Regions from separate parts of the Homo sapiens genome. Here region 1 is linked to region 2. The links come from fine-mapping of genetic effects on gene expression. A gene starts in region 2. The other region holds a variant in brackets. All regions are shown on one strand. Distances are from middle to middle.

The links.
Region 1: its variant is fine-mapped to the expression of ADM in whole blood (INTERVAL, PIP 0.94).

Annotation. Positions count from the first base shown.
Region 1 is chr11:10,262,117-10,272,563 of GRCh38, reverse strand. All of the region lies in intron 1 of SBF2 (SET binding factor 2), which reads left to right. It also overlaps the pseudogene LOC653503. Among named protein-coding and RNA genes, the nearest start is that of SBF2, 27 kb to the left of the region's middle. The variant C/T (reference allele first, on the strand shown) is at 5,081.
Region 2 is chr11:10,299,315-10,309,761 of GRCh38, reverse strand. It overlaps ADM (adrenomedullin), which reads right to left and starts at 4,689. Exons shown (of 4, transcript NM_001124.3): 1 at 4,533-4,689; 2 at 3,964-4,082; 3 at 3,664-3,813; 4 at 2,365-3,430. The coding sequence starts at 4,061. The coding sequence ends at 3,121. CAND1.11 (a long non-coding RNA gene) reads right to left here and starts at 1,449. Exons shown (of 4, transcript NR_103765.1): 1 at 1,089-1,449. It also overlaps a transcript of SBF2 not described here. RefSeq lists enhancers at 1,579-1,848, 6,702-6,881, 6,902-6,981 and silencers at 2,349-2,448, 2,786-3,080, 4,098-4,147, 4,168-4,217, 4,898-4,947 and 2 more.

The sequences.
Region 1 (10,447 bases), 37 kb after region 2:
GTGAGTTCGCACTTTGGTAGTGCTGGGATTACAGGCGTAAGCCAGTGTGCCTGGCCTGGTATTTTTTATTTTTAATGAATAATTTTAAAGAAATGGTATGGTGAAATCACCGTGTTTGCCCAGGGTTGTTTGTACTTGTGGCTCATGAGGTTTGAAGTTATTGAAGAAATTGTTGCAAGACTTAAGGAAATTGTGTGAGTAACTGGTAACTAGCAAGTAAGTAAGCCTTAGTTACAGTGAACGACTTGTCATTCTCCTAAAGAATCAAGATTGCTGCAGCCCCTAGGAGCCCAGCGCCGCCGCCATGTCCTCCGGGGCTAGCGCGAGCGCCCTGCAGCTCTTGGTAGAGCAGCTCAAGTTGGAGGCTGGCGTGGAGAGGATCAAGGTCTCTCAGGCAGCTGCAGAGCTTCAACAGTACTGTATGCAGAATGCCTGCAAGGATGCCCTGCTGGTGGGTGTTCCAGCTGGAAGTAACCCCTTCCGGGAGCCTAGATCCTGTGCTTTACTCTGAAGACTCGAGAGAAGTTTGCTGAGGAATGCCTTCAAGCACAAAGTGATGAATGACTGCCTTCAAGTCTCAAGAAAACACTTTTACCTAACTTTTAGAGATATTTCAGCCCTTTCCTGTGGCCTGGTCCTATAGCCAAAATCACAGATATTCATGAGTTTCTACTTGAGTGAGAAAACTGGGTGAAGGAATAGAATTTTAAATAGTAATAACTGCTTGTTTTTTTGTGCAAGTACTTTTATACATAAGATAAACAAAAACCTTACCACCAAACATACCAAAATGCACCTCTTTCATAAGTGAGTTACTAAGATTTCTATACCTGGAATATCATGTATGTTTCATTTACTGGATGTTTACATTTTAGGAAGGAAAATAGTTTTGTTTATTTAAACAACTGAATACTTATAAACTGTTGTTCCTGGAAGTTATTTATTCCATAAAAAATTTGTTCTTTTCTCATGAATTTATAATTCCTAAATGAAGACCAGAAAGTACAAATTGCTGGGAGGAAGAATAGGCTTTATTAATCAACTGATGTCTTGATTTTTCTAAATGGGAAGATTGCTTTATTTTTAACACTAATTATGGGAGCAGATTCTTAGCAAACTTCTTTGGAAAAGTTAATGTTATGATGTGCATTAGGCTGCCCCATCGTGTATATAAATGAAGCAGATTTGATTTTTGTATTCTTACGTTTCTCTGCTTTGTAGTTGTGGCTGTACTTAAAGAAATACAGAATTTCATATATTTAAAAATGTTTAAAATGTGACCCACAGAACATTGTAAATGATTAAAAACTAACATGAAAATATTACAACCTAAAAGAATTCTTAACTTCAAAAAAAAAAAAAAAAAAGAATCAAGATTGCTGTCCTTGGTTTTGCAATTGCTACTCCCTTGTTATTCTGTCTTTTTGATCATAACCACTCCAGTGGGTAAGAAGTGGCATACTGCTGACATTTTAACATATGTATTTCCAGAGATTTTTGTGTGCATCCATATACGTATATATGTATAATTAATTTTACTACTTTTTTTTTTTTTTTTTTTTTTTTTTTGAGACAGAGTCTTGCTCTGTCGCCCAGGCTGGAGTGCAGTGGCACAATCTTGGCTCACTGCAAGGTCCGCCTCCCGGGTTCACGCCATTCTCCTGCCTCAGCCTCCCCAGTAGCTGGGACTACAGGCCCCCGCCACCAGGCTTGGCTAACTTTTTTCCGTTTTTTAGTAGAGACGGGGTTTCAGCGTGTTAGCCACAATGGTCTCAATCTCCTGATCTTGTGATCCGCCTACCTCGGCCTCCCAAAGTGCTGGGATTACAGGCGTGAGCCACCGCGCCCGTCCTCATTTTACTTCTTAAAAACATGTTTATAGCATCTATCCATTTATATAAGCTGTGTTTTTAAAACTTATCTGCATGTTATTGGAAGCTTTCCATGTTCTATATACAGTTGACTCTTCAACAACATGGATTTGAACTGCGTTGGTCCACTTATACACATTTTTTTCTGCCTCTGCTACCCTTGAGACAGCAAGAATAACCCTTCCTCTTCCTCCTCCTCAGCCTACTCAACATGAGGACAATAAGGATGAAGACCTTTGTGATGATCTGCTTCCACTTAATAGTAACTGTGTTTTCTTATGATTTTATTAATAACATTTTCTTTTCTCTAGTCTGCTTTATTGTAGAATACATTATATAATACATATAAACATTAACAATATGTATTAATCTACCATTTATGTTATCTGTAAGGCTTCTGGTCAAGAGTAGGCTATTAGTAGTAAAGTTTTTTGGGGAGTCATAAGTTATATGTAGATTTTTGACTGCACAGGGGTTGGTGCATCTAACCCTTGAGTTATTCCAGGGACAACTTTGTATATATAAAACATAACATCAATTTTTATTAACTACAAAATGTTTTTATCATTTTAATATATAATTTAAAGTAAATAAATTTATCAGTTAATCTCATGGTTAGATAATTTTGTTATTTCCAAATTTTTGCTGTTATAAATAGTGCTGTGATGAATTGTTCTAGCCAGATTTTTGCATTGATTTTTAATTTCTCAGGATCAAATAGAGAGGCAGTAAATTTTAGTAGTAGAAAAGTTAGAAGTGTGGGATGAGCTAGATGTGGTGGCTCACTCCTGTAATCCCAGCAAGTTGGGAGGCTGAGGTGGGAGGATCATTTCAAACCAGGAATTTGAGGTTCCAGTGAGCTATGATTGCACTACTGTACTCTAGCCTAGGTGACAGAGTGGGACCCCATTTCTACAAAAATAGATAAAGTGTGGGATGGAGCCACATAGTCTGAGCTTGATTCTTGGTTTTGCCTCCTAGTAGTTCTGGCTTTAGACAAGTTACTTAATTTTTCTGTCTCAGTTTCTGCATTCATAAAATTGGATAATAGTAAATAGTAGTATCTACCTCATAGAGATGTTGTGAAGATTAAATGAGTTATTTCATGTAAAGTAAAACAGTGTCTGGTACACAATAATAGTGCCACATTTTCATCATAGAAATGGAACTGCCGGGTCAAGGATATGTATGTTTATATGGACATATGTGAATTTTCTTCCTGGCATCCCTTCCTTTGGGAACCATGCCTTCTTTTCTCTACGGTTCCAGGGAAAGTTTCAGTCCTAGTTACCCTACCCTCTACTTTAAGCTGGACCGGTTAGAGCTTGGGTGTTTTCTTTTGGAACAAACTGGCACGCCTATCTTTTCCCACTAGGATGACTAAGGTAAGATACTGTGATTAAGTTGAGGCTGCCAGTGTGTGTTTTCCTTACTGTGTTTAGAGAGTCTCTGAGTATTGAACACAAGCTGAGGCAAGGATAGTCAAAAAATGAAAAGACAGACATAGCTCTGGAAACATTATCTAAACTTCTGGTTCCAGCTGTTTCTGAAAGCCAAAAGAACATTTTGAATAGTTTTGAGGTATATTGCTAAAATGCCTTGCAGAAAGATGTGTCAGTTTATACTCTCAGTAGTAGTATGGGAGTATACCTACTTCCTTCAGGGAGATTTTAATTAGGAAAAAAAAATCACTTAATGAGGTATTGCTTAAGAAACAACAGAGGAAACTGCATAGCTTCATGAAGACGAAGATGCTAAGGGGCTGGTTCAGAGAGATCAGACCTTCAGATTACATCTCTGAAACATTTTGCTGCTTGTCTTTGGTCTTTACTGTGTCCTAGAAATGTTTGAAACAAGGAATTGGAGTTCTGAAAATTTCAAGGTCTTTCCGTTTACATTTGTCTAATTTTTTTAGACTGAAAAAGAGTTCCTTGAGAGCATGGCCCAAATATATCACAGTATGCTATCCGTAGAGAAACTTTTGAAACTGGAAAAAATGTCCTTTCAACAGAGAGACTACTACTTTTTTAGCAGAATGCTTTACACACTGGGAAGTAAACAATTATTTACTGATTGTTTATTGAGTAGACAGTTGAAGGGCTTTTGGTGATTTTCCTAACAGACTGAGTTAGGAGAAAGAATTTGTGTTGTTTCTGGAAAGGGCTATTTTCCACTGATGACACCATTCTATAAATGTCATCTTTTTCGTTGATCCATTGTAGCTTTTTGTGTACTGTATTAATAATTTACAAGGTTCACTAATACCATGATTTGAAGAAAACAAATTGTTTGGGAACTTGACATCTCTCTATTTTTTTTCTTCAAGCAAACATTCTGTCCTTATAGTAATTTAAAATATAGGTTTAAGAACTTAAAATGGAAGATTCTTGTTTAAAGAAAATAAGTGGTTTTGTGGCAAGTTTTTAAGTGGAAAAAAAAATCTGTATAGTTAATGACATCTGCTTGTAGGTAAAACTATGTCCTTTGTTTTTCCTAGCTTAAGTTAATTCTAGTAACATTTACAGAGAGAAATCAAGTGTCAGAACAAACTTGGACAATAATAGTATGAAAATTAATTCACAGTGGAAAGTAGCAGTTGGGACTGGAGTGAATTTTATAAATGCTTCATATACTTGTCCTACGCGGTCTTCTAGGGAATTTGAAAAGAATGTTACTTGTTTTTCTTTGGAGACAGATGTTTTACCAAATCTTAGCGTGAGTAAACCCAAATCCACATGAGATTGGAGTTAATAAAAGTCATTTTTTTAACAGGAGGAAAGAAATGAGAGGAACAACAGAATAAATATTCATTTAAGATAGTGAAACACTGAAGATTTTTGAAAATGTAAATTACTATATTACTAAAAAACCATATTACTCCCTTCTCCCTCACCCCCACCTTAAACTCCCTTTCACTGCTACTGTTCAGATTGTGTGTTTGAGGAATTTGGTTGTAGAAGAATAAAGTCTGGGTGTAGACAGTTTCGGGTTTGTATAGCCATCTGGACCAGGCTGCTTCTAGCTTTGTACTTAGCCACTCAGCTCCATCCCATCTATATTCCAAGTAGGAGTAAGACCCTGTCTCAAAAAAAAAGAAAGAAAAGAAAATGCAGCATGTTCAAGCATATCTGGCTCATTCAAACCTCTTCCCCTTGGCCATTCGCTCAAGTCAGAAACTTGCCACACTCCTTTCTCTCTCACCTTCACTT[C/T]AAAGTGTTGTTTTTTTTTCCCTCAAAATTTTCTCACATCTTTTTTTTCCTCTGTTTTCACAGTCACTGCCATAGTTTAGGCCCTTATCAGTTCTTACTCGGATTACTATAAAGTGCACTCTGTTAGGATAGAGGTTTGGCTTCCAGTAATAGGGACTTAAGTGTCTCAAACAATATAGAAACTTATTTCTTTAAAAGTTAAAGTCTGGGTGTAGACAGTTTCGGGTTTGTATAGCCATCTGGACCAGGCTGCTTCTAGCTTTGTACTTAGCATCTCAGCTCCATCCCATCTATATTCCAAGTAGGAGGATGGAGGAAGTAGGGAAGAAGAGATAGCCCCCTTCCCTTTTTAATTTAATTTAATGTAATTTAATTTAATTTAATTTATTTTTGAGATGGAGTCTCACTGTCACCCAGGCTGGAGTGCAGTGGCACGATCTCGGCCCATTGCAACTTCATCCTCCCAGGTTCAAGCGATTCTCCTGCCTCAGCCTTCTAAGTAGCTGGGATTAAAGGCATGTGCCACTACACTTGGCTAATTTTTGTATTATATTTTCGGTAGAGACGGGGTTTTACTGTGGTGGCCAGGCTGGTCTCGAACTCCTGACCTCAAACCATCTGCCAGCCTCGGCTTCCCAAAGTGTTGGGATTACAGGCGTGAGCAACCACGCCCGGACCCTCTTCCGTTTAAAGGCCAAAATCAACTACGTTTCCTTTGGCCAAAACTTATCCTGGGAAATGTGGTCCATATCCCTCATGTTAAAATTGGAGCTTCTGTTATCACCATCATCATCACTGTCATCATCATCATAGCTGTTAGGAAATAACTAATCAAGTGTAGACATCTCTTTATTTCCTTGCTTTCAGTTAAATTCTTCTCTAGCTAGTTCCATATTGCCACCAGAGTAATTTTTTTTTAAAAGGAATGTTTATGTCACTTTGTATTTAATCTTTGAGTAGTTTGCTACTAGCTTCAACTTCATACTCAGAATGTCTCACGGTATCTAAACAGTGTCAGTAGCAGAGGAAATCTGCATTTACCCGTATCTAGCCTGGGTCCTGTTGTCCTGCATGCAGGGATATCCCCTCCCCATAGTGATCAGTGTCTCCTAGTCCTTTACAGTCTCAGTGCTCTGTCCTTGGCCGAGAGGTCTTTAATTGCACAAATAGTGTCCTCTCCTCTGTAATTCTGCAGTGAGGGTCTGTATGAGGTAGCATGGCGATTGACTGGTCACAAGTAGCATTAAGTTCTAGCGTCAAACAACCTGAGTTTGTGCTTAGCCACCTATTGGAATGTGGCTGTGGACAAATCATTTAACTACAGAGCTGAGTTTATCCTCTGTAAATCTGGGATAAAAGTATGAGTAGTAGCTGCCTCATGTGATTGTTATGAGGATTAAATGAACTGATAAGCAAGGTCTTCTGCCTAGCCGAAAAAGTACTAAAAAAAATGGCAGGTTGGGCTGCCAGGCATGATGGCTCATGCCTGTAATCCCAGCACTTTGGGAGACCAAGGTGAGAGGATCACTTGAGGCTAGAAGTTCAAAACCAGCCTGGGCAACAAAATGAGACCCCCATCTCTAAAACACACACACACATGCGCGCGCGCACACACACACACACACAATTAGCCTGGCCTGGTGGTGTGCACCTGTGATCCCATCTACTTGAGAGGCTGAGGCAGGAGGGAGGAGTGCTTGAGCCTGGGAGGTTGAGGCTGTGGTGAGCCATGATTGCACCACTTGTACTCCAACCTGGGTAACAGAGCGAGACCCTGTCTCAAAAAGAAGGCAGCTATTATTATTTACATAGGTGCATATATGTTCTTCACATAAGTCCATAATATTTAGGCGTGTTTCACAGAATTTAAGCTGCATGTGGTTTTCATTGAGTTCTCTAGATTTTTTATATTGACTGTATGTTTGTATATTCATTGACATATTTTAAAAAGATACCCTGTGTTGATACCCCCCCACCTCTCCCCCCCCCCGATTTCTGCACTTGACTGTGAGCTTTTAAAGATAGAAACTGTTAAATTTACAAGAAAAAAACAACCCCATCAAAAAGTGGGCAAAGGATATGAACAGACACTTCTCAAAAGAAGACATTTATGCAGCCAACATGCATATGAAAAAAATGCTCATCATCACTGGTCATTAGAGAAATGCAAATCAAAACCACAGTGAAATAACCATCTCACACCAGTTAGAATGGCAGTCATTAAAAAGTCAAGAAACAACAGAATGCTGGAGAGGATGCGGAGAAATAGGAATGCTTTTACATTGTTGGTGGGAGGGTGAATTAGTTCAACCATTGTGGAAGACAGAGTGGCAATTCCTCAAGGATCTAGAACTAGAAATACCATTTGACCTAGCAATCCTGTTACTGAGTATGTACCCAAAGGATTATAAATCATTCTGCTGTAAAGACACATGCACACGTATGTTTACTGCGACACTACTCACAATAGCAAAGAATTGGAACCCACCCAGATGTCCATCAATAATAGACTGGATAAAGAAAATGTGGCACATAGACACCATGGAATACTATGCAGCCTTAAAAAAGGTTGGGTTCATGTCCTTTGCAGGGACATGGATGAAGCTGGAAACCATTCTCAGCAAACTATCCTAAGAACAGAAAACCAAACACCACATGTTCTCACTCATAAGTGGAAGTTGAACAATGAGAACACATGGACATAGGGAGGGGAGCATCACACACCAGGGCCTGTCGGGGGGTGGGGGGCTAGGGGAGGGATAGTATTAGGAGAAATACCTAATGTAGGTGACGAGTTGATAGGTGCAGCAAACCATCGTAGCATGTATATAACTATGTAACAAAACTGCACGTTCTGCACATGTACCTCAGAACTTAAAGTATAATAAAAATTTTAAAAATTAACAAAAATAAAAAAATAAATAAAGTAGGAACTGTTTTCTGCTCATTTTTTTTGTAGTACCTGGCAAAATACCTGGCACATGGAAGACCCTTGGTAAATACATATTGAATTAATATTGAATGAGCAATTATACTAAGATGGGATGGCAGCCTAGATGCTATCCTTCTGCTCCCATTTTCTTTTCAAGCATGCATCTCCCTATATAATCTTCCCTAAAAGAATTTTTAGTATACATAGGTGAGATCTTTATTATAACTCTGTCAGTTATTCTCAACATTTTTTCTAATGAGAAGCTGAGCTTTATTTCCCTGAAGTATTGTGAGTATTTGGATTAGAGAAGAAGGTGACCAAGTATCACTGTACCAGTTACTGATAGGAGTGGGAGGAAGATTATGGTTGCTGAGCATTCCTTCCCCATTATAAGGAATACTCAAGAGCTATAAAGAGGGCAGTTTGGCAGTAAAACCATCTTGGAATTTGATGATGTAAAGCTTGAAGATCTCCAAGCTGCCTGCTGTTGACAAATATTCCTTAGTAAGCTTTACCTAAGGCAGAAGCACATTCACATAAGCACCTTGGATTATCTTGTAGTTCTTATTTTTTAATATTAACTTTATAAATCATGAATATTTTTGTAGTTATCAGGTTATTGTTAAGACCTGTTTGGATAATTTTCCTCAGATAATGCTTGAATGATGGGATTTTTGGATATTGTTGTTTTTTCGTTTTTAAGTGGATAATTTGGACTGTTCAAGTGTTTCCTCACCTTTTCCGTAAGGATGTTCAAATGTGTTTAATATATTCCAGAGAGTTTAATTTCAGCCAGGATAAAGTTTTCATTTGATATGGTATATTCTTCTATGTCATTTTTCCGGGTGAATGGAGTTGAGTATTCTCTAATGTAGCCAAAGGCTTCTATTCTTAAGTACAGCAGAGATTTTATACAAACCCTTCACTTTATAAATAAGGAACCTAATGTTTAATTAGGTACTTATTAGTAGTAAGAGTCTCTGACTTATTTAAAGGTCAGAGTTTATTCTAGTAGAAGTTACTGCATGTCTCTTGATACTAGTAATTAACCTATTGTAGCTTGAATTAACCATAGTTATCATTAAGGTTTTAAGAAGACTGTAATTCATTCTCTTGATCATTCATACATGGAAGTCAGGGCAACCCCTCTAAACAGAAAGTAAAGTGTGGTTTCTTCCAGCATTATGTCATTATAATTCACACAAATTAAAAAAAAACTTGAATTTTTACTATATCTGATACTTCCAGCTTCATAATTTTTCTTTGGGGGATAAAAATGTGTAATTATTATTAAAACCATATAAAATATGAATAATGTGCTTATTTTCTTTTGTCTGAAATGTTGATTTATTGTGCTGATTTTTTTTATTTAAAAGGATAACAGAAGATTCTTGAATGATTTATCAATTGGCCTTCAATAGGTATAGAAAGAAGGTATCTATAAGGAGGAGATTTTAAGATTCTAAATGTATATTGTATATAATTTTTTAAAACAGGGAAGTAGTACAATTTCTTTAGGATTAAATGTTGTATTGAACACTGATAAAATATTTATTAATTTTAAAGAATGTCATTACTTGTTAATGCAAGTTTTTTTTTCGTCTTATATGGTAGTAAAATTATAGACTCCCTGAGGATCCTTTTATCCTCAGGTAAAGAATCTGAGACCTCTGGTGTCATAGCTCTTTGCAGAACATTTAGAGAAAGCATCAACCAATTATTTTTGCATAGATGAACTATTAAGTTGAATTCAGCAGGTATAGGATATTTCATTAATCAAGGACTCAAAAAAATCAAGGATACTTGGTTAAAAGTTTTTAGCTTTCAATGTGTGTGTGTAGTGTATGCATATACATCTATGTATTTACATTTTAGTTGACTGACAGTTGTCTTTTGGAAGTTACGGTTTATAAAATAAAATAATTTATACATACATAGAAAGCATAATAAACAGATCACTAAACTCTTTTCTACCCTCGCATCAGAGAGCAGCCCCTAAGAGGCTTATAGTCTATTTTATAAGGATGAGATGTCTGTGGAAAGATAATTATCATATTGCCAGGTGAGTGCTCTAGACAGTAAGACTAGGTTCAGAAGGCTGAGGGTGACAGGAAAGGGCTCATGGAAGTAGTTTATTTTGAGTTGCACTTTGAAGGATTGGATGAGGCTTTTTTTCCTCTACAACATTTGATTATGAAAAATTTCAAATACAACGAAGTTGAAAGAATTTATACCAAACGCCTGTATAGTACTACCTACACTTTGTACAATTAACATTTTATTATACCTGTTTTATCATATATTACTCCATCTGTTGATTCCTATATCATCCACTAATCTATCTTTTTTTGGATGTATTTCACAGTAAATTATTGATACCAGTATCTTCCCCCAAACTAGTTTGGCATGCATATAATTAACCATAATGCAATTTT
Region 2 (10,447 bases):
ACAGCAAGCAACAGTAGCTAAAGATAAAAGCTGTGACTACTCCTCAGCTGTGGACAGGTCGAATCAGCTCACAAATGACTCATCACTGTTGATAAACAATGTGTTCTTGGCATCAATAGTCCCTATCCTGATAAGCTTCAGCACCTCAAAGAGAAGAGCCCGGGGTTTGATGGTGACCTTTGGTTAATCCTGAACTCATACCAAACTGGTCTTAGGAGGGTCTCTGTCTCCTCGCACATGTCTCCAGTCACAGGATTCTCAGCGGGAAGGACTCCAGCTGAGCAGCTGCCTCTTTTGTCTTAGGGCTGAACCATCTCCTTCACTTGCCTTGGATTCCCTCAAGTCATAAGACTTCCTCAGCACAAGGCTAGACGCCTGTTCCCTGCTCACAACCGCCCGAAGCTTGTGCCCAACCTGCCTTTGGCAGCTTTGTTTGCTGGCTGACGCTGTGCCAAGGTGAGGTTTGGCTGGAGTGCTTTGTGGCTACAGGACAACCTTGGCTCAAGGAAAGGAGTAATCTTGCGCCACTGTCTGCGAGGCTTAAGTGTTTGCTGCTCTCTGCAGTTTCTGTAGCCCCTTCAGACCACCCAGAACCCACTCACTGGCACAGAAATTCCATGACAGGAATCTTGAGTCACTCTTTCATTCATACATGCCTGGTACCTTCTCAGTGCCTGGCACAGAGTTCCCACAAAGTGAATCTTTTTCTGAAAGGCCCTTGAGGACAAGAATGGTCTGTAGCTGCATTTCTAACCTCCTCAATTCTGGCACACCTCACACAATTATTAAGATCAAACAGGACAATAAACTATATGAGATTGGCATTGTCAACAGCCAGGTGCCCAAACTGAGGTTTTGTATGGTCTTAAGGAAATTCTATGTACTCGAGTTTACTTTCTTCTAAATTGAAACTGCTTTGGAATGAGGTATCTCTGGACCCCAGAGTAGGGCCCCTCTCTCTCAGTGGGTATGCAGTCCTCTTCTGCAAGAAACTAAACATCCTAGCCCCTCGGAGGGGACCCTGTAATGTGCAAAAGCCCCAGAAGGCCGTAGGCTACCCTGGAAACATTTCCATTCTCCAAACTCACCTTCAGGTTTTCTTCACCAGGGAGGTTTCTGAGATCACCTACAAGCACTGACATTAAGGCCAGGGAAGCTTTTTGGAAGGGACAAGTAGCTGGTCTCCATCTTGGGTCTTCAGGATATTGGATGAGACAAACAGGGCACCCTGAAATCAAAATCAGGGGTCCCTCTCTTTACTCTTCCCTTATGTCCTAACTGTTCCTATGTCCCCTGCCTTTCTAGTCACTCAAGGGGGGCTTAGTGTCCGTCTATCGCCGGAACTGGGGTCAACCTTCTCAGAAGATAAGGCATATAAAGAAAGCAAGGAGGAAGGAAGGAGAGAGAGAGAGGAAGGCTGGAGAAAAGTGAAGAAAAAAATGAAAAAAGGCTTGGGAAGGAGGAAGGAAGAGGTGAGCGGCTAGGGGAGGCGGAACAATGAAGGTCTCAGGCCGTCGGAGGCTCACGGTTCCGCCGGCACGTCCGTCCTGCCCGCCTCCAGCCGGCAGCTGCACGCAGCGCAGCGTGTGGGCGCTGAGTCACTGTCCCAGAACAGGGAGCCGCGGTGCAGGTCTGGGGGGTGTAGGAGGACGGCCCTGGTTGGCATCTGCAAACTGTTTCTTTCTCTCTTTTTTTTTTTCTTTCTTTCCTCTTTCATTAAGGCTGTGTGCTGACTCCCACGTAGGAGAACTTATTAAACCGCACGTACTGCTTGGCGGCGCTGGGCCTGTCTCAGCTGCCTGCAGGGGGCGCTACAGCCTCGCCCATGAGCCAGCGGCCCGCGGGCGCTCAGGCCCGGGCAGACCCGGGGTTACTAGGGGTTACTGGGTTTTCCGGAGGTGTCCCCACGCATTGCTAGGGCGGCTTGGAACTTTAACAACCGCGGCAGGCAGGGGGAACGCCTCTCTTAGAAGGCCTCAGAGACCACCCCAACTCTTCGAAGCTCGCTTTCGCGCCGGGTTCTGTGAGCAACCCTATAAATCTAGGACTCCGTTGCGCAACCCGAGAGTCCAGGCTCGCCAACCCACTAGGGCTCCCCCTACCCACCCCCCGCCGGCCGCCACGCCAGGCGGTGACCTCGGGCGTCTCCGCGAAGCCCTGATTCGCACCCAGGACACGTGTTCTGCGCGCCCCACACAGAGAACAGAGCTCGTGACAGCTCAGCCCGCTCAGAGTAGGGCCAGCACCTGCACGCGCCGCTGTCCCACCTTCCCAAGCCCGGCGGCGGGACCCCAAGGCTCCTGGGCGGGCCGGGACCAGGGCACCCTCCCTTCCTAGACGTGAGAGCCGAGCCGAGAGAATGAATCAGCATTGAGACAGTTTATTGGTTTGCTGTTCGCATATCACCCATTTTATGTAAATAGATTATACAGAGACTCGGTGTTTCCTTCTTCCACACAGGAGGTAATCAGTCTTTCTCTTTCATGCACACAAACACACTCACATTCCACGCGGCGAACAACTTTACACCTCGCTGAGACATTCACGTCTTAAAATAGGGGAGGACAATATAATTGCTTTTAAAATGCCCTTAATACAATATATAACGTACAAAAATATCTCTATATTTGAAGTTACAAAAAAAATCTTGACAGCAACAAACTTAAATATTGATAGTTACCTCTGTATGTACAACACGCATTGCACTTTTCCTCTTTAGGTTTTGGAAAGTTCAAGTAATAGTGAGGCTTGCGCCCTGGTGGGGTGACACGCCGTGAGAAATCAGTTTGTGGGCGAGCACGGCTGTGGCTCAGACCCCTGCTCCGGGGGTCTCAGCATTCATTTCTCAGTTTCTCCTCTCCTTAAGCCTGGCAAACACTCGGATTCTTCTGCACCCCGCCCCCTGGGGCACTTGCACCTGAGCAAGGCTAAGGAAGCGAAGCCCCCAGAAGGAGGGGCCCTTGCAAAGCCAGAGCTCGCCGCCGGACGGTGCCTCCCGGACTCAGGGTCTCCGCAGGGCTGTCAGAGCCCGGTCCCCACACCGCTCGGGAAGTCCTTCGTCCCGGGAGGCACCAGCGGGATGCTTGCGCGACTATTCCTTGTACCATGGGCGCCTAAATCCTAAAGAAAGTGGGGAGCACTTCCACTCGGGGGGGCTGGAGCCCCGTGTGCTTGTGGCTTAGAAGACACCAGAGTCCGACCCGGGCCGGCCTCGGGCAGGGAGCGCCGGCGCCGGCGGCCGTAGCCCTGGGGGCTGATCTTGCTCCTGGGGGCGACGTTGTCCTTGTCCTTATCTGTGAACTGGTAGATCTGGTGTGCCAGCTTCTGCACCGTGCACGTCCCGAAGCGGCAGCCAAAGCTCCGGAGGCCCTGGAAGTTGTTCATGCTCTGGCGGTAGCGCTTGACTCGGATGCGGGCGGCATCCGGACTGCTGCGGGCGGGGGGAGGGGGAAGAAAGGCAACTTGAGACCCCATCAAGCAGAGCTTTGGCCCCAACACCGGGAACGGGAGCCATTCTAGAGCCAGAGGGAGCTGGAAACTGCTCGCGCCATCTGAGCTGCGGTCCAGCCCCGACGATCCCCCGGGCCAGGGGAGTGGAGACAGAGAACTCCTCCCGCACACCTTCCTTCCCTCCCGTCCCTGGACAGCACAGGGCGTAGTTACCTGTCTTCGGGGCTTCGAGAGGCACCCTTCATGTCCTGGGGCCGAATAAGGGTCTGGGCAGGCCCGGCCTTCACGTCAGCGAGCCCGGTGGGGTAGCTGCTGGACATCCGCAGTTCCCTCTTCCCACGACTCAGAGCCCACTTATTCCACCTGGAAAACACAAGCAGACCCGATTCGCGTGCGTTCAGGTGACGCCCAGGCCTGTCCCTGCTCCCATTCACTTCTAGACCTTCGGGACCAACGGTCAGTTCCCCTTGCCTGCCAGGTACCAGCAAGGGGGAAGGCGCTGCCCGGACTCACTTCTTTCGAAACTCCGACGCGACATCCAACCGAGCGGTGTCAGCGCCTAGGAAGGCGAGCGAACCCAGGTACATCAGGGCGACGGAAACCAGCTTCATCCCGGCTGCGAAGCGCAGACCCTGGAAAAGAAGAAAGAGAGTCGAGCGTGAGCACCCGGGCCAGCTGCACCGCCCGGGCGGGGCACGGAGGGCGGGCAGGGGCCCCGGCGAGGCGGGTTTAGCCCGCGCTTTCCCTGGCTCAGACGCTTATCTCCCTCCGCGCAGAGAGGCGCCAGAGGCGTTTGCACGCGCCGGCCGGGTGACAGGCCCCGCAGGGGAGGCCGCTGCACCCCGCCAGGCTCCCAGAGGGTCTCTGCTCAACTTCTTGGAACTTGGCTGACGGAGCAGAGGGGACTGGGTCTCTGGACCTCCAGCTGTGTGCACGAGCTGGGCCCAGGATATGGGGTGTATCTATCTCTCAGAGAACCCTCCAAAGTGGGTTGTTCCCCTCACCCAGCGCTCCCAGTTTAGGGCCTTGGCAAGCACTGCCCCCCACCCCACCTCTTAACCCGCAGGGTCTGCGGCACCTACCTGCTAAGAGAGTGATCTGCCAAGTACTTGAAGGAGAAAGTCTCAGACGTCCCACTGGCAATGGCAAAACTCCGAAGTCCAAGCCCAGCTGCAGTGAGAAGCCCGAAGTGGCAAGGCTTGAGCTGTTCTATCCAGTGTCACCAAGAAACCACTGAGTGGCCAGCTCTGGTTCCTGTGCTTTATAAGCGCACGGGTGGGGGAGCGGCGGGGCGGGGCCTGGGCTGCCCGGTTGCCTTCCCTTTCTTTCCTCAGCCACGCGCGCTCCTGCTCTCGGACGCGCGCATTGCTTCCTTTGGGGCTGGAGTTGGGATGGGGGGAGGGGGGAGCGGGGGAGAGGAGGTCCCTCGTGCCCAGAGGGCTTAGGTATGGGCTCCAGGCGGTTGGTGCAGGAACTGCCACAGCCCTCTTTGGGCACAGGGTTCAGACAGTACGCCGGAGCGAAGGGGCGCCACTACAACCTCTTGAGGTCCTTATCCAGGACCCATGCGGCCCGGAGTGCAAAGCCTCCTGGCGAAGAACAGCAAGAGCCCGCGGAAGGGACAGCGCGGATGGCCCGAGCCCTGGACCTGGGGAGCTGTGGCCTCAAGTGGACCGCGCCCCCCTGCCGGCTTGGCGCCTGACCGGGCCGCGACCCCAGACTCCCGCGGAGGGGCCGGGGCAGGGACGGAGCAAAGCCGAGAGGAGCAGGACTCACTAGTCCCCCAGAGGACCAAGACCCCGGCGTTTCGGGGTGAGCTAGTAAGATTTCACGGTAGGGACAAGGCTCAGAAAAGCTAAATTGAGAATTGGGATTTGGAGGGGGGAATTATCTGAAATTTCAGAATTTTCATTTCTATTTGGAAACATAGGAATAACCAAAATTAGGAGGAAATATACTGTTTCATTTTGCCTCCTTGTAATCCTATTATGCCTTATAAGGTCATAACCTGAGATTGTGCCTGGCTGCCTTCATTAATCCATCGTAAACGTGAGGACTGACTGCCAGGGAGCACACTAACGCTTCACGTATGCTAATCATTTTACAGTTTACCAAGCACGGCCACATCCCAGTCTACTTTGAGCTTCACAGCCACCCTTGAGTCAGGCAAGGAAGGTAACATTCCTTTTCCCATTTCAGCAGGTAGAAAATTCAAGCTCAGAGAGGGGAGGTATCTGCAGAGAGGGGAAGTCACCCTGCAGGTAGGAAGCAGCAGAGTCCCTACTCGGCCCGACACGCTAGCACGGCCGACTGGGGCGCGGCGTGGATTCCTCTAGGCTGGGGTCACCAACTTCTCAAGGGGCAAAGGAGAGTCCTAGCCCCCGCCCAAAGAATTTGTGCCTGTTCATGATGAATCACGCTAGACACGTTTGTCACCCGTTTGTGCTCTTTCATCACAGCTTCTTCTCTTTCTTACTTCTCTCCTGGGGGCCAAACTGGGAAGGAAAGGCTAAGCCACGGGGCTTCCTGCTTCGTGCTTGTGGGTTTCTGGGGTCCTACTAACCACTCCTCTAATCGAATGTCCTGAAGCCCAGCGACTCGACGGAGAGGCCAAAGGTGCGAGACCACTAGCCAAACAGGCTTCTAGTCCTCACCTCCCGGCAATTCGCTGTGTGAAGGTGGGCGAGTCATGTCCCATCTCTCGAGTCCCCATCTTAGAGCCGGTCCCCAGCAGACCTTTAAGCTTCCTTCCTACTCTGCCATATGGCTCTGAGCTCCGGTGCAAAGGCGGCTGGGCAGTGGGTCGCGCGGACCTTGCCCAGAGTGGTCTGTCTGGGCCGCGCACTGCTGGCTTAGCTGCCTTTTCACTCTCGGGACTCAACAGTGGACATTGCACCTGGGGAAGAAATGGCCGCGCGGAAGTTATTTAAGGACTCTTCCTGGAAGGAGTCACCTGAGCGGACCTGAATTCCATCTGAGGACGGAGGACAGATTCCGGGCCCTGACCCTGGCCCTGGTAAGGGGTTGGGACGCGGAGGGTTAGAGGAGTGCAGCGCGGCGCACTGGTCTGGATCCGGCCGCCCGGCTGGGCGCAGGGCAGTCACCGAAGTGGCCTGGCCGGGCGACTAGTCCGTCTGCACCGCAGACAGCAGCTATTACTGAACGCCTGCTCGGTGACCAGGAGCCTCCCCAGCCTAACTATTGTTCTTCTCCCTTGTCTCCCATTTCCTTTTCCTTTCACTTTATCCTCTGCGAGTCAAGCTCTTCGCGCAGATCCAGGACTGGCTATCAGTCGCTCTGAGGATGCGACCTACTTGTCGCCAGCTTCCACTTGGTTCCGCGCCAGGACAGGTTTTACTTTCATTTCTCCCGCGCGCGCCTCCGACTGCTGGGGAGGTCAAGGACAGCTAGGCGTCGGCCCACGGCCAGGGAAGGTCCCGTGGTCTGGACTCGTTCCTTCCAGTCTCCACCAGTCCTGGGGGGTGGGGCGCGGCGGGGGTGTTCGTTCTCCAGAGAACTCTGCGACTGTACCTCGCTGCCACCTCGCTGCCTCCTCGCTGCCCTTTACAAAAGCTCGTGATTCCGTGGGGGAAACTTGAGCTGTGGCTCTGCCAGGAGGATCGCGAAGCAAGTGCCCTTGGTTCAAACTCCTCTTTGAGCTGCAGGCAGCTTCAAAAAGGAAAGCAAGCCCAGGAGTGTAGGGAGACTCAGAGGCTAGGCTCTGCCAGCCTCGGGTGCCTATGCCAGCAACCTCTTGGCTGTGACAAGAATTCCCACCTGAGAGTCTTGGCATGCACTTTATCAGCCTGGTGCACTTTGCCGCTCTGGCACTTAGAGATCTGTCACTTGAGAACCAAGTCAATTCTTTAAGTAAAATCTTGGATTGGCAGCTCAAAGTATTTTCCTAGAAAGCCCCTATCTTGGAGTGAGTGAGTGTGTGCGCGAGCGCGCACCCCGCTTGCATGGGTGAGTAGCAGGGGCTAGAGTGCTCCCCAAAGCTTCGTGGGTTTAAGTCGAAAAAAGATAAGGAGTTTGTTAAATCTGGGCATCTATGTTTTTTCTCGTGAAATCTCGAGTTTGTTTAATTAATCATCGTTAACGACAAAAAAAAATCACTAGAATGCATTTCTGGTTCAGTGGTTCTATGGAGAAGGAAATGCTGCAGTGGGAGTTCTGATCCTGGCAATTTATTAACATAAGTTGCATCCATTCAAGTGGCAGTGATTGTAGATTCACGTTGAGCAAGGACAGTACAAGGAAGGAAGGAAGTGAAGGAAGAAACATCTTTAAATTTCTGGCAAGAAAAGAGAAAAGAAAAAGAAAAAAAAATCCTTGTTAATGAAGATCTACTTTTTTTGTGTGCTCCAGAATTTCAAAAGGTCAGATTACAAATAAACCTCCAAACCACTGTAATAAATGTGTACATCCTGACATTAGGGAGACACACATACACATATGCTAAAGGGTTTTTGCGTAATGGTGTTTCAACTTCTTCACATTCCAATTGAATGATTTTTAGGCCCTATATCCAAGCCTGATTCTTAGTAAAGTTTGGAGTTTAAAAAAATATGTGGTAGTGGTTTCTCAGCTAGCACTGTGGACACAGTTCTTAAAGCCAGAGTGGCCATACTCAGGTCTTTCAGAGAAGCATTGAAAAATAATAAATATCAATGATATTAATAAGAATAACTAAAATGTGAGTAGCTAAGTGCATTGCATAATTATCTCAGATGCCTCCTTTATCAAACAGGAAATTTTATGATGCATTTATTATTAATATAGTTCAAAATGTCTTTTAAGCTGAGGACTTGTTTACAAAGTTCACTTGAAAACAAAGTTCAAGATGCATCCTGAAGTCATAACACAAAGTGATTTAGAGAAAGAACACAATCAGCCTTGTGGATTTGATCACTTACAAGGAGAAGTAAAGCAGGATACAAAGCCCAGGGCACTTTTTTGGGATCTCTGACTTCTCTAAGGACCTAATAAAAATATAGATCCTTTCCAGAAAAATGAACATGTACATAAACCGATTAAAGTATAAAATAGGCATACAGTTCCGGGAGGTTGACCAAGTTTAAAACCCTGACACAGAATAAAAAACACTGTTTCCATATTTTAAATTTCTGTCTGGTTTATAGTGGTAAGGGCAAGGAGGACAGTTAACCTCCCTCTTTAGGGCATAATATTTTCCAGAGCATCAGCATAAAGAAAAGTAATGCGTTTGCTGCCTCATTTTTGTGCTCCTGTACAAAACAGGCAGAGAGTAACAGTCAGTTCTTGTACATGGTAAAGCCAGAAGGCAAACCTCCCTGAAGCTTAAATAAGGTAAATTACTGCAGAACAAATGAAAGAGAAGAGATGGTCCAGTACAGTGGCTCGTGCCTGTAATCCTAGCACTTTGGGAGGCTGAGGCAAGTGGATCTCTTGAGCTCAGGAGTTCAAGACCAGCCTGGCAACATGGCAAAAATCCATCCCTACAAAGAAAAAAAAAAAAAAAGAGAGAGAGAGAAGAGAAAGTAGTAAACCTAAAGAAGCTTGTTACAATAATACCTGTAACAGGACAAAATGAAATTACTTCAAGAGAAATTTGCTACAGAGGGCACAATAAATGGCATTAATGAATGGATGATAAAAGAGATGATTAGGCCATTTGAATCATCCATAGCCAAAGAGAATGGTGTTAATGAAAGCAACCATCATGCTACTTGTCTCCAGATAGGGATCCTGTGATATCAGATTAGAAGCACCTGGAAAGAAGCAATTATTTTATATATGTATATATATTTATATATATTTTTTTCTTTTTATAGAGATGTGGTTTCATCATGTTGCCCACGCTGGTCTTGAACTCCTGATCTCAAGAGATCCACTCGCCTTGGCCTACCAAAGTGCTAGGATTACAGGTATGAGCCACTGTGCTCAGCCAAGAAGCAATTCTGATTTATAAGCCTGAATGAATTGATAGTTTTTTCATTCTTTCAACAAATATTTACTGATTATATATTATATACCCAGCACTGTGCTAAGTTCTCAACATACAGTAATCACCAATGCAGTCATCAACAAACTTACCCTCAACGAGCTTACAGCCTAGTGACGTAGCCAGATATAAACAAATCCTTATCAGAATTATGTATTTACATGATTATAAACTGTGTTAAGTATTCTGAAGAAAAAGCAAGACTAGGGGGATCTAATATTCGAAATGGAGGAAACAGCATGTGCAAACACTCAGAGATGGGAAAGAACTTGGTACATTAGAAAAAATGAAAGGAGTCCTGTTTGATAGGAATGCATAGAATGATAGAGAAAAGAGGCCTGAAATGAGATTAAAGAGGTCATCAGGGTCAGAGTAAATAGGACCCTTTCCGACATGAAGATTTTGCACTTTATTTATGGTGACATGGAAAACTATTGACAGGTTTGAAGACAGGAGAGACATGATCTGATATACATTTATTTAAACAATCGTTTTGGCTATGGAATGTGGTAGATAGATTAGAAAGGTGCAAGAAAGGAAGCAGCACGGTGGTGGTACTCTGGAGAGACTGCAGAGAGTCTAGTCCCCCCATAACATTTATTATACCCCCTCCCCACATACACATACTCATTCCATCCTAAAGTTCACCAGCTTCACTGACATACACTCTGTTCAGTAGCACACGGCCTGCTCTCAGAAGAGCCCACACTTGGTGGAATGCTCTGCTGAAGCTGTTTTGAAATTCTCCAACATTTCTGAACAGGCAGTCCTACATTTTCATTTTGCACTGGACTCCACATATTATGTAGCCAGTCCTGCTCATCAAACATGTGATCTAAGTAAAAGTAGCTTGTAAACTCTTACAGTACCTATATATACTGTAGCTGCTAATGTCAGGGGTACTTCAAATGAATGTTAAGATTCAACCATTCATCTCATCACACATGGACCGCAACTGCAGGACACTTCCTTTTTTTTTTTTTTTTTTTTTGAGATGGACTCTTGCTCTGTTGC